2 separate regions of the Homo sapiens genome follow, and region 1 is linked to region 2. Evidence: fine-mapped expression QTL. A gene starts in region 2. The other region holds a variant in brackets. All regions are shown on one strand. Distances are between the middles of the regions. Region 1 overlaps TNK2 (tyrosine kinase non receptor 2). Region 2 holds the start of TNK2 (tyrosine kinase non receptor 2).

What was found.
Region 1: its variant is fine-mapped to the expression of TNK2 in whole blood (TOPMed, PIP above 0.99).

Annotation. Positions count from the first base shown.
Region 1 is chr3:195,867,759-195,872,758 of GRCh38, reverse strand. TNK2 (tyrosine kinase non receptor 2) reads left to right here. Exons shown (of 16, transcript NM_001382273.1): 10 at 289-483; 11 at 2,554-2,645; 12 at 3,218-3,262; 13 at 4,050-5,000. Among named protein-coding and RNA genes, the nearest start is that of LINC01983, 9.9 kb to the right of the region's middle. The variant A/G (reference allele first, on the strand shown) is at 2,342.
Region 2 is chr3:195,905,604-195,911,052 of GRCh38, reverse strand. TNK2 (tyrosine kinase non receptor 2) reads left to right here and starts at 2,502. Exons shown (of 16, transcript NM_001382273.1): 1 at 2,502-2,568. TNK2-AS1 (TNK2 antisense RNA 1) reads right to left here and starts at 2,977. Exons shown (of 2, transcript NR_145450.1): 1 at 2,275-2,977; 2 at 1-1,188. RefSeq lists enhancers at 919-968, 3,959-4,188, 4,239-4,288 and silencers at 1,099-1,748, 1,799-1,988, 2,039-2,288.

The sequences.
Region 1 (5,000 bases), 38 kb after region 2:
TCATGTTGCCTGCTGCAGCAGCTTCCAGCGTGCCTCCTTATTTGCAAACCATAGGGAAAGCTGCCTGACCCACCTAGAGAGTTGTGGGTAAGGCCGTGTGCAAACAGGCCTGTACGGGGCATGGTGGGTCACGGGGGCTGTTGGGGAGGAGGGCCGGTGGCACACAGCCTGGTCCTGAGGCCTGAGCTCCATCCCCCTTCTGCCACAGTGGCCAGGGTGTGAGGAGGGTCCCAGTGCCGGGGCTGCCCCGCCACGCCTGGCGTTCACCGTGCCATCTCTGTCGCGCAGGGCCGAGAACTACTGGTGGCGTGGCCAGAACACACGGACGCTGTGTGTGGGGCCCTTCCCTCGCAACGTGGTGACCTCCGTGGCCGGCCTGTCGGCCCAGGACATCAGCCAGCCCCTGCAGAACAGCTTCATCCACACAGGGCATGGCGACAGTGACCCCCGCCACTGCTGGGGCTTCCCGGACAGGATTGACGAGTGAGTACTGGGCGGGGATGGATGCTGACCTGGCCCCGCTCGGGACTCCAGGGCCCTCAGCACGGCACGCGTGGGCGGAATCTGCTCTTCACCCTTTCGCCCGGGCTTCAGCCCCCGACCCGCCACTCTCCCCTCCTCACCCTGGCCTTACTCTCGGGAAGCTGTGGAACCCTAGGAAGCCCAGCCTGGTGGGGGTTCTCCAGGGGAATGTTCTCCAGGGGAGTGTTCTCCAGGGGAGGGTTCTCCAGGGGAGGGTTCTCCAGGGGAATGTTCTCCAGGGGAGGGTTCTCCAGGGGAGGGTTCTCCAGGGGAGGGTTCTCCAGGGGAATGTTCTCCAGGGGAGGGTTCTCCAGGGGAGGGTTCTCCGGGGAGCGTTCTCCAGGGGAATGCTGTCCCTGCCATTTTCAAGCTTTGGGGGGCCGATCTCCTAACTCTGAGACACTTCATCTGTGAAACAGGTTCACCCCCCCAATAAGGGGAAGGCTGTAAATGCACTCTGAATTAGCACTTGCTGCTCAGATGCAGGGGTCCTGAGAGAAGCTTTCCCACTCACTGTAGATGAAAGTAGGGTCAGGAGCTTCTGAGGATGGACTCCTGTTTGGTGGAAAGGTCCCCGGAGCCACAGCTGTAACCCCTCTTGGTACTCGGGCCTTAGGAAAATGAACTTGGGAGGAACCCGGTGGGAGCTGCTGAGGAGGAGAGCTTCTCCCATGACCCCCCTGTGGCCCCCTGTGACCCTGTGACCCTGTGACCCCTGCACACGAGCAGTGGTTTTCCTTCTCCTGCTGGTGGTGCCAGAGTCCTGGAGACGTGAACCTGCTGGCTCAGGCCCTGGGGATGTATGCAGGTCCACATGGGAGTGAGCCTGCTTTCCAGAACCAGAGTGGGACTGGGGACCTTGGGGACTGCAGAGGGAACGTTAGGTGGCAGCTCCGCCTCCCCACCACACAGTACTCTACGGAGCTCACTCCATACCTGGGAGAGGCCCTGTCTCCTATGTAAGAGGATAAGGCCACCGAGGGGCATCTGGGAAGGACACGCAGAATCAGTCACTTCCGGGATGCCACCCCCCACCCCCCGAAGCTTCTTGCGCCAGGCCTCCAAGCCTCTCTGCTGGCCGCAGGGGGATTCCAGGCCCCTGGCCTCTGCAGCCCTTCTCCTGCTGACTTCTGATACTCTGGTCTGCCCTGAGAGGCGTGGAAAGCAGGGGCCTTCACCCACCGGGCCCCACACACCAGAACCCCACACAGCGGGCCCCCACACACCAGAACCCACACAGCGGGCCCCCACACACCAGAACCCCACACAGCGAGTCCCCCCACACCAGAACCCACACAGCGGGCCCCCACACACCAGAACCCACACAGCGGGCCCACACACACTGGAACCCCAAGCTCACAGGGCTCAGCCCATGTGTTTTGCCTAAAAAGAACCCAGCAAGGGCCTGAGAGTTGGGGTGAAAGACTGCAGACACCTCCAGGAGAGGCTGGTGCCCTCTGCCCCACTCCTGGCATGCTGTGGCCAGCCCAGCCCCATTCCTCCAGGCTTTAATCAGCCCCAGTGACTAAGTCTCAGATACTGACAGTTGGTGCAGGGACGGAGGGTGGATCCGGAGCAGGACAGGTGGCCCAGCCTCTCCCGCACCTCCTGGCCATGTGGCAGAAGGGTGCCTCCTGCCCACCCTGGCTGGGCACCATAGCTGGGATGCCCCGTTCTTAGGCCCTCCATCGTGGCCTGCGGGACAGGAGTGTCTGCCCTCTGGCCGCTGCCTGGTGTGGGCTGGGGGCCTGGGGGGTTGTGGAGGACCACCTCTGCCCTTGTAGGGTGTAGTTGGAGTCCCTGAGGTCCTAGGCTTTCC[A/G]TCCTGGGGTCAGGTGTCCTTTCTCTGCCTTCTCTCCAGGACACCCCCCAGCTGAGACGTGCGGTCAGGTTCTGTGGACTGGGAGGCGGGAGGCCTGTGCTTCAGACCCAAGACTACACCCGGTTTCCTCCAGGACGAAGGGGCTCTGATGAGATTCTGCCACCCCTCCACACGCTTCCCCTGCTCTCTTGACCCAGCTCTCTCCCCCACAGACTGTATCTGGGAAACCCCATGGACCCCCCCGACCTCCTGAGCGTGGAACTGAGCACCTCCCGGCCCCCCCAGCATCTAGGAGGGGTGAAAAGTAAGAGCCCCTCTGCTCCCTGGTGTCCCTAACTCATCGGCTACTCAGGAAGGGGCACTGTCTTCACAGGCCACCCTAAGGCTGCTGTTCTGTTTTTGGGGACAGTGGGGTCAGGGCAGCAGGCGGGACAGCTGTGTCCCTGGCTCCGGCTGGGCGTGGGGTGGAAGACAGGCAGCTGTATCCGCCGAGGTGGGCCTCCTCGGGCTGGGTCTGCAGCAGGCCCGTCCGCCCCGGCGTCCCTCCTCCCTCCTTCCACGGCCGAGCTCAGATCCTGGCTTTCCTCACTTCCCCCTAATCCTGCTCTCCTGTCCCAAGCCAAAACCACCCCACGGCTCCGGCTCTGCCTGGGGCCTCCTCCATCTCCCGGTCCTCTGCCTATCATACTGGACCGCCGTGTTCCTCATCCTGCCGCCTGCGGCCTCCCGTTTGCTGGGGGCTTGTACATTCACTCGCCCCCATTCACTTCTCTCCCTTCGTCTCTCTACACTCTGCCCTCTCGTCCGGCCGTCTCCCTCCTTTGTCCTCTGTCCTGCTCCGTCTCTCTCCCCCTGTCCGCATGGCCTTTCTTGCAGGGGAGCCTCCACCTCGCCCACCTCAGCCTGCCTTCTTCACTCAGAGTAAGTGGGGCTGCTTCCGATGCCTTGGCCCCCGCCCCCGCCCCCTCTCTCTCACTCCTCTCCTGGAAGGTACAGAGCCTGGGCGGCTGGGCCGGAGGGGAGGTGGGTGGGTGTGTGCTGTGAGCTTCCGCGGCTGCCCTGGCCTAGCATGCCTGCCCCCCCTCGAGCCCGCCCCCCGGAGCCTGGGCTTCTGCTCACGAGTGTGGCCCTGGCTTCCGCCTCGGCCTCACTCCCTCCCAGACCTGTCTGAGCTTCTGGAGCACGAGTGTGGCCCTGGCTTCTGCCTTGGCCTCGCTGCCTCCCAGACCTGCAGGCGCTGTCTGGGCTTTGTGGCCGTTGGTCAGGAGTACTGTCCTCTCCAAGGATAGTCCTTATAGCCCCTGATGGCAGGAGGCGGCTCCGTGCCTGCACTAATGGTGTGCCGTGACAGGGGCGGGGATGAGGGCTCACTAACTCGCCAGGGCGCAGGAGCAGGGCCGCCGGGGTCTTGTGCTGGTGGAGGCAGCGTCAGGCAGGAGCCAGTGTTGCTTGCTGCAGCTTAGACGGAGCGAGGCGGGGCTCACCGGCCCACATGGGGCTGCCGGGCAGAGCAGGTTCCGCCCTCCTGATGGAGTGGTCGGAGGTGCGCTGAGAACCTGGCCGCCGGTGGCTGACCTCAGACCTCGGGGGGAGTTGGGAGTGGAGGGTTGCTGGGGGACACTTGGCTTTCTCTCCCACGTGCCACCTCCCCTCGTGTCCCAGACCCTGCCTGACTGCCTTCCTGTTGGGCTCTCCCTTTCCATCACAGAACCAACCTATGACCCTGTGAGCGAGGACCAAGACCCCTTGTCCAGCGACTTCAAGAGGCTGGGCCTGCGGAAGCCAGGCCTGCCCCGAGGGCTGTGGCTGGCGAAGCCCTCGGCGCGGGTGCCGGGCACCAAGGCCAGCCGAGGCAGCGGGGCTGAGGTCACGCTCATCGACTTCGGTGAGGAGCCCGTGGTCCCGGCCCTACGGCCCTGCGCGCCCTCCCTGGCGCAGCTGGCCATGGACGCCTGCTCCCTGCTGGACGAGACCCCGCCTCAGAGCCCCACGCGGGCACTGCCCCGGCCCCTGCACCCCACGCCTGTGGTGGACTGGGACGCACGCCCGCTGCCCCCCCCGCCCGCCTATGACGACGTGGCCCAGGATGAGGATGACTTTGAGATCTGCTCCATCAACAGCACCCTCGTGGGCGCGGGGGTCCCTGCCGGGCCCAGCCAGGGCCAGACCAACTACGCCTTTGTGCCTGAGCAGGCGCGGCCGCCCCCTCCCCTGGAGGACAACCTGTTCCTCCCGCCCCAGGGTGGGGGCAAGCCGCCCAGCTCCGCACAGACCGCAGAGATCTTCCAGGCGCTACAGCAGGAGTGCATGAGGCAACTGCAGGCTCCGGCCGGCTCCCCGGCCCCCTCTCCCAGCCCGGGGGGTGACGACAAGCCCCAGGTGCCTCCTCGGGTACCCATCCCCCCTCGGCCCACGCGCCCACACGTCCAGCTGTCTCCAGCCCCCCCGGGCGAGGAGGAGACCAGCCAGTGGCCTGGACCTGCTTCCCCTCCCCGGGTGCCTCCGCGGGAGCCCCTGTCCCCTCAAGGCTCGAGGACACCCAGCCCCCTGGTACCACCTGGCAGCTCCCCGCTGCCACCCCGGCTCTCAAGCTCACCTGGGAAGACCATGCCCACCACCCAGAGCTTTGCCTCAGACCCCAAGTACGCCACCCCCCAGG
Region 2 (5,449 bases):
TGTAGAACCTCAGTTCTGCCACGTGTAAAATGGGGATATTATGTGTCTCCTTGGGTTGTCATGGGGTTGGATGAGAAGAATGCGAAGTGCAGGGCCTTGCACAGTTGGGCTCTGTGAGTCTTAGCAATGGCCATGACTGAGGCAGCGTGAGGGAGACTGGGAGAAAACCTCCTCAGTTTCCTTCTCCCAAATCTGTTGTCTTCCCCACTTTCTTTCCTGAAGCCAGGCGACAGGGGGGTGGTCCTGGCCCAGCCTCCTGGCTCCCTGGGGAAGGGCTGCCATTACTGGCAGTGTTAGATAATTTAGTAGAAAGTTGCCCTGCCCACCTCGCAGGCAAGGGACCGCCACCCAAATCCACCCAGACTGGGCCTCGTGTAGGTTTCCAGAAGCCACCCCTTTCTCATTGCCCTACTGCGCTCTGGCCAAGTCCCTGGGGCCCATTGCTGGACAGTGTGAGCGCAGAAAGAGCCAGCCCTACACAGTTTCCGATGTGTCTGATCTTGCCACCTACCGTGAACTGTTTTGTTATTACATCCATTTTCTAGATGAGGGACAGTAACAAGGGCTGAGTGGCCCTGAGCCCTTGGGCTCCACGCGCCCGCTGCCCAGGGCTGCCTCCGTTTGGGCTGGGACATGGGTCTGTGGGCTGGGAACAGGGCCTGCAGGCTGCCCCGCCGCTGGGAATCCGAGCGCTGGGTTTTCTCCTTCTGGGGTGGGGGCAGGGAGGAGACGGCTCAAGTGCAGGAATGAAGGTCCGCTTGCCTGGGGCTGTTTCTGCCCAAGTCCTCATCAGGAATCGTCAGGCCTGAGACAAACCCTCCCTCCTTCAGGAGTGCTCCGTTGGCCCCGGGGAAAGAGAGGTGATGGTCCGGGTTTCTGGGCCTTTGGGGTGCCACGGTGAGATTGGGACTAGAACCCCAGCCTCACTGGAGTGACCCCAGAAACCTTCCAGTCCAACCTCCTCACTTCAACTGAGGTTGGAACAACTGAGACCGGGTGGAAGTGACTTTTACACTCGCACAGTGCAACGGTAGCTACTCGGAATGAGAGACCTGTTCCGGCGCTCCTCCATTGCGCCCCTCGACTCGGCGGGACTTCTTCACCCAGGGCGCCACCGCTCCTCGGCACCGCAGGAAGGCGCAGGCCGGGCCCGGGGGAGTCGGGGAGAGCGGGGTAGGGCCCCGGAGGCTGGGGGAGGAGCCGGGGGAGGAGCGATGAGGCCGGGCCCTTTAAGAGGGCGGGCCGACTCCCCCCCACCCCCCACCCCGGGGCGGCGCAGGCGCAGGCGCAGGCGGGCTCGGGGCGCTCGGCAGGAGGGACGGCGGGCGGGCGCTCACCTGCGGGGGCCGGCGCGGGGCGGGCGCCCGGCGGGCCGACGTTGACGCCCGGAGGCGAGGGCGGGGAGGCGGGCGCGGGACTCGGGGGCGGCCCGGGGCGGGAGGGGAGGGCCGGGGCGGGCGGGCGGTGTGAGCGGGCGCCGAGGGCAGCACCATCTGGAGGGGTGGGAGCGCGCGGCCTCTGGGGGGCAAGCGAGTGCGCTGGGCCGAGCCGGTCGGGGGCCCCCGGCGGGTCGCGCAGGAGGAGCGCGGCGGGCTGAGCCCTGCGCTGCCGGAGCAGCAGCCGCAGCGCGTAGGGGTTCTCAGCTGGGGCCCGCAGCAGCTCCGCGGGCTGAAGCTCGGCGTGGAGGAGCGGGGCGGGGTGGGCCCGGCGGTGCAGGAGGAGGGCGGGGTGGGCCCGGGGCTGCAGGAGCGCGGCGGCCGCGGCCACGAGCCCAGCCGGGGGGTGGTGTGGGGGCCGCCGGACGGCGCGGGCTGGGGGCGCCCGCCGTGGTGGACGGGCTCGGCGGGCTGGCCTGTGGCGCAGGAGGAGGGGCTGGGGCCCCGCGGGCAGCACCAGGAGAAGGGCGGAGGCAGCCCCGCAGTGCAGGAGCGCGGCGAGGCCCGGGCCGGGGTGCAGGAGCGCGGGGAGGGGAGCCCGCGGAGGCTGCTGCAGCAGCCCGAACCGGCGTCCGAGTCCGGGGAAGGCCCCCGCGAGCGCAGGGAGGGGCCGGAAAGTTCCGGCGAACTGGGGGAGCGGCAGTGGGAGAGCGTCGGGCGGGAGGCGGTGGTCCTGGGAGCGGCCCCGGCGCCCCGAAGCCGCCCCGAGCTGGTGGGGAGGGCCCGGCCGGTGGGGCCCCGGGGGCCTGCGGGGGAGGGGCGCCTGGGGGTGCAAGAGGCGAATTGGCTGCCCGGGGTGCAGGAGGGACAGGTGGTGCGGGCTGTCCAGGAAACCTACCTGAACGGGAAGGAGCCCCAGGAGGGAGAGGGACCCGGCGAGGGGCTCAGGACCCGGAGGCGCCGGCGGAGGAGGAGGTGGTGACTGGCAGGCCCGGGCCCCACGGTACCTCCGGGGCTGAAGGGGACGCAGGATGTAGGGGCATGGGGAGTCGGGCGCAGAAGAGTGCGGGGAACCGCTGAGCTCTGGGAGCCACTGCCTGAGGGCAGGCCGCGGCCGGCGGGAACCTCTTCTGCCGTCTCAGCCTGGGCGTCGCTGAAGCTGTGTCTGCGGGGAGGCAGCGGAAGGCGGCAGGTAAGGAAGCCCAGTCCTGTTAGCTGGAGTTGGTGTGCTTGGAAGTGAGAGGCTGCAGGTCCCTGGCGAGAGCGTAGACTCCACACTGCCCTCGTTCTTTTGGCCTTTCATCCCTGGAGGGAGGAAGCAGTGCAGTTTTCAGCGGCAAGGCAGGACCTCTCCCCCGCCAGTACTGTGTATGGTAATTGGAGTGATAGGGCATCTTCTTAGAGTCTAGGCAGCAGGCGGGACGTCTGGGTGGCTGCCAGGTCTGTGCAGAGGGAAGAGAGGGGTAGCCCCAGGGAGGAGCTGCAGGACGGTCCCCCCTCCACCTGCCCCCCGATGGCAGTAGGGGTGCCTCCATGCTATATGCTCTGCATGGTGCAGTCAACACACAAGTCCTCAAAACACGTCCCACAGAAGGGAAGAGGGCAGCGTGGGATTAACAGAACCTTATCTTGTAACCCTGTTGGTCACGTGAGCTGAGATGAGTGTGACAGCTAGTGGCTTGGGTACGGCACGAGCCTGGCCCGCTTCTGCCACGCCGTCCTGTCACAGCTGATTTACCCTGAGGGCCCAGAGCCAAGGATGATTAGTGGGCGGAAGGAGGGAGAGCAACTGGTGAGCCCTCTCGTCTCTGGGTGGGACGACCCAGCGTTAGAGGGGCGGGAGAGGAGGGTGCACTTGCACCCCAGGGCTCTGGGCTGCCTCTGTGGCCCCACCCTGGGGAGGTTTGCAGATGGGCCGCTGTGGTATCATGGGCTCTGCACCTGTCAGGACAGGAGCTCCCAGCCCAGTCTAGAGGTAGGGCTTGTAGGGGCCAAGGGTGGGGGCTGTATTTGGCTTGTTGACTCCCTCGTGGCCTGAGTGCCAGACCTACTCATTCCGCCTCGTGCCCCCAGGGGGCTTGGCGGGCTGCTTGTGGGCCTTACTCTCCTAGAGCTGTTCGCCTCTTACCTGGCACTGTCAGGTGCTTGCTTCCCCTGCCCCTGGGTGGGGATGGGTGCAGGGTTGCTGCTTGCCCAGGGCCTTAGCTAGAGGACCCTCCTCTGCCCCAGCCCGAGGTGTGGCTGTGAGTCAGATGGACCCAGACCCCTGTCCCGAACCAGACTGGGTGCTCTCCTCTGGGGGCAGAGGGAGTGGTGCTGGAGGTAGCAGCTGCTGGAGGAGCCGGTTAGCCCGCTCCTCAGACAAACTCAAACCCGCCTGTCAGCTTCATCCCATGCCTGTCGCGCTGCCACCCAAACACTCATGCACCGGAAGTTCAGCTGCTGTGCCCACGGTGCCTGACGCTTCTGGAATGGCCAGAGTGGCTCTCACTGTCTGGCTTCAGTGGAGAGAACGGTCTGTTTTAAACACATACACACAATCTTCACCTACTTATTTCAGGTCGGCGTTTTTGAACTTGTGGTAGATGAATGGGAGAAAGGCCTTGGCATCACACAGATTGCTTTTGATCTGGTTATATCGCTTACAAGCTGTGTAACTTCCTTGGGCAACATAATGTCTTTAGGTTTCAGTTTCTTGGTGTCTGCGGTGGGCCAGGACTTCCCCTGCAGTGTCGTGAGTAAAGAAACCTCAGGCCCTTTGGAGCCTGGTGCCCACCTCCCCGGAGCCCCGGCAGATGTTAGGGAGGAAGGGTCAGACTGTTCCCTCTGGCCCCTGAGCCCGGGATTAGCCCCCACCTTGTGCTTCGTCTAGAAGATGCAGTGTTTCTTTTTGTTTGTTTTAAATAACAGTTTTATTGAGATATAATGACATATGGTAAACTGAGCATATTTAAAACACACAATTTAATAAGTTGTGGCCTGTGTATATACCCGTGAAACCACCCCCACCTTCAAGATAGTGAACATCCCCCTTATTCCCCTGTCCCCAGAAGTTTTCTTGTGGAACCCCTCCATCCCCCGCTCCTCTGCCATCCCCTACCCCAGGTAACAGGCTGGTCTACTTTCTGTCACTGTGTCTGAGTTTGCAGCATTTACTGTAAACGGAATCGCGTCTTTCATTCAACAGAAGTATTTTGGAGTTTGTCCAGGTGGTTGCGCGTATCAACAGTCATTGTACACGTGTGCCAAAGTCTGTTTATCCATTGACCTGTTGATGGGTTTTCAGAGAAAGCTGCTGTGAACGTGTTTGTTAGTCTTTGTGTGGATGTACACTTTTATTTATCTTAGGTAAATCCCTAGGACCGGAATGGCTGGGTCATGTGGTAGGTACACATTTAACCTTTAAGAAACTGCCAGACTGTTTTCCAAAGTGGTTGTACATTTTATATACTCATCCACTGTGTATGAGAGTTCTGGTTTGTCCATGTCTTTGATATGTCCACATCTCGATGTGGTCAGTCTCTAATTTTAGACACTCTCATGTCTGTAGTGGTATCTCATTACAATTTTAATTTGTATTTCCTTAATGACTCATGTTGTCGGGCATCTTCTCATGTGCTCATTTGCCATACGTATGTCTTTGGTGCTGTGTCTGTTCAGATCGTTTGCCCATTTTTAATTGTGTAGGGTTTTTCGTGTTGAGTTCTGAAGAGTTCTTGATATATTCTGGATATAAGCCTTTTATCAGGTATGTGATTTACAAATCTTTTTTCCAGCTTGTGGCTTTGTATTTTGATCCTCTTAACAATGTCTTCTAAAAAATTCTCATGATCAGTAGTGCAAAATGCTGTGTTTTTGAAGAGAAGTTGTAAATTTTGATTAATTTACTAATTTGTTACTTTGTGGATTGCATTTTTGGTGTCATGTCCAAGAAATCTTTGCCTGACCCAAAGTCCCAACAGTTTTCCCCTGTATTTTCTTGTAGACATTTTATAGTTTTGGGCTTTACATTGAGATCTAGGATTCGTTTGGGGTTAATTTTTGTTACGTGGTGCAAGGTATGAATCAATGTC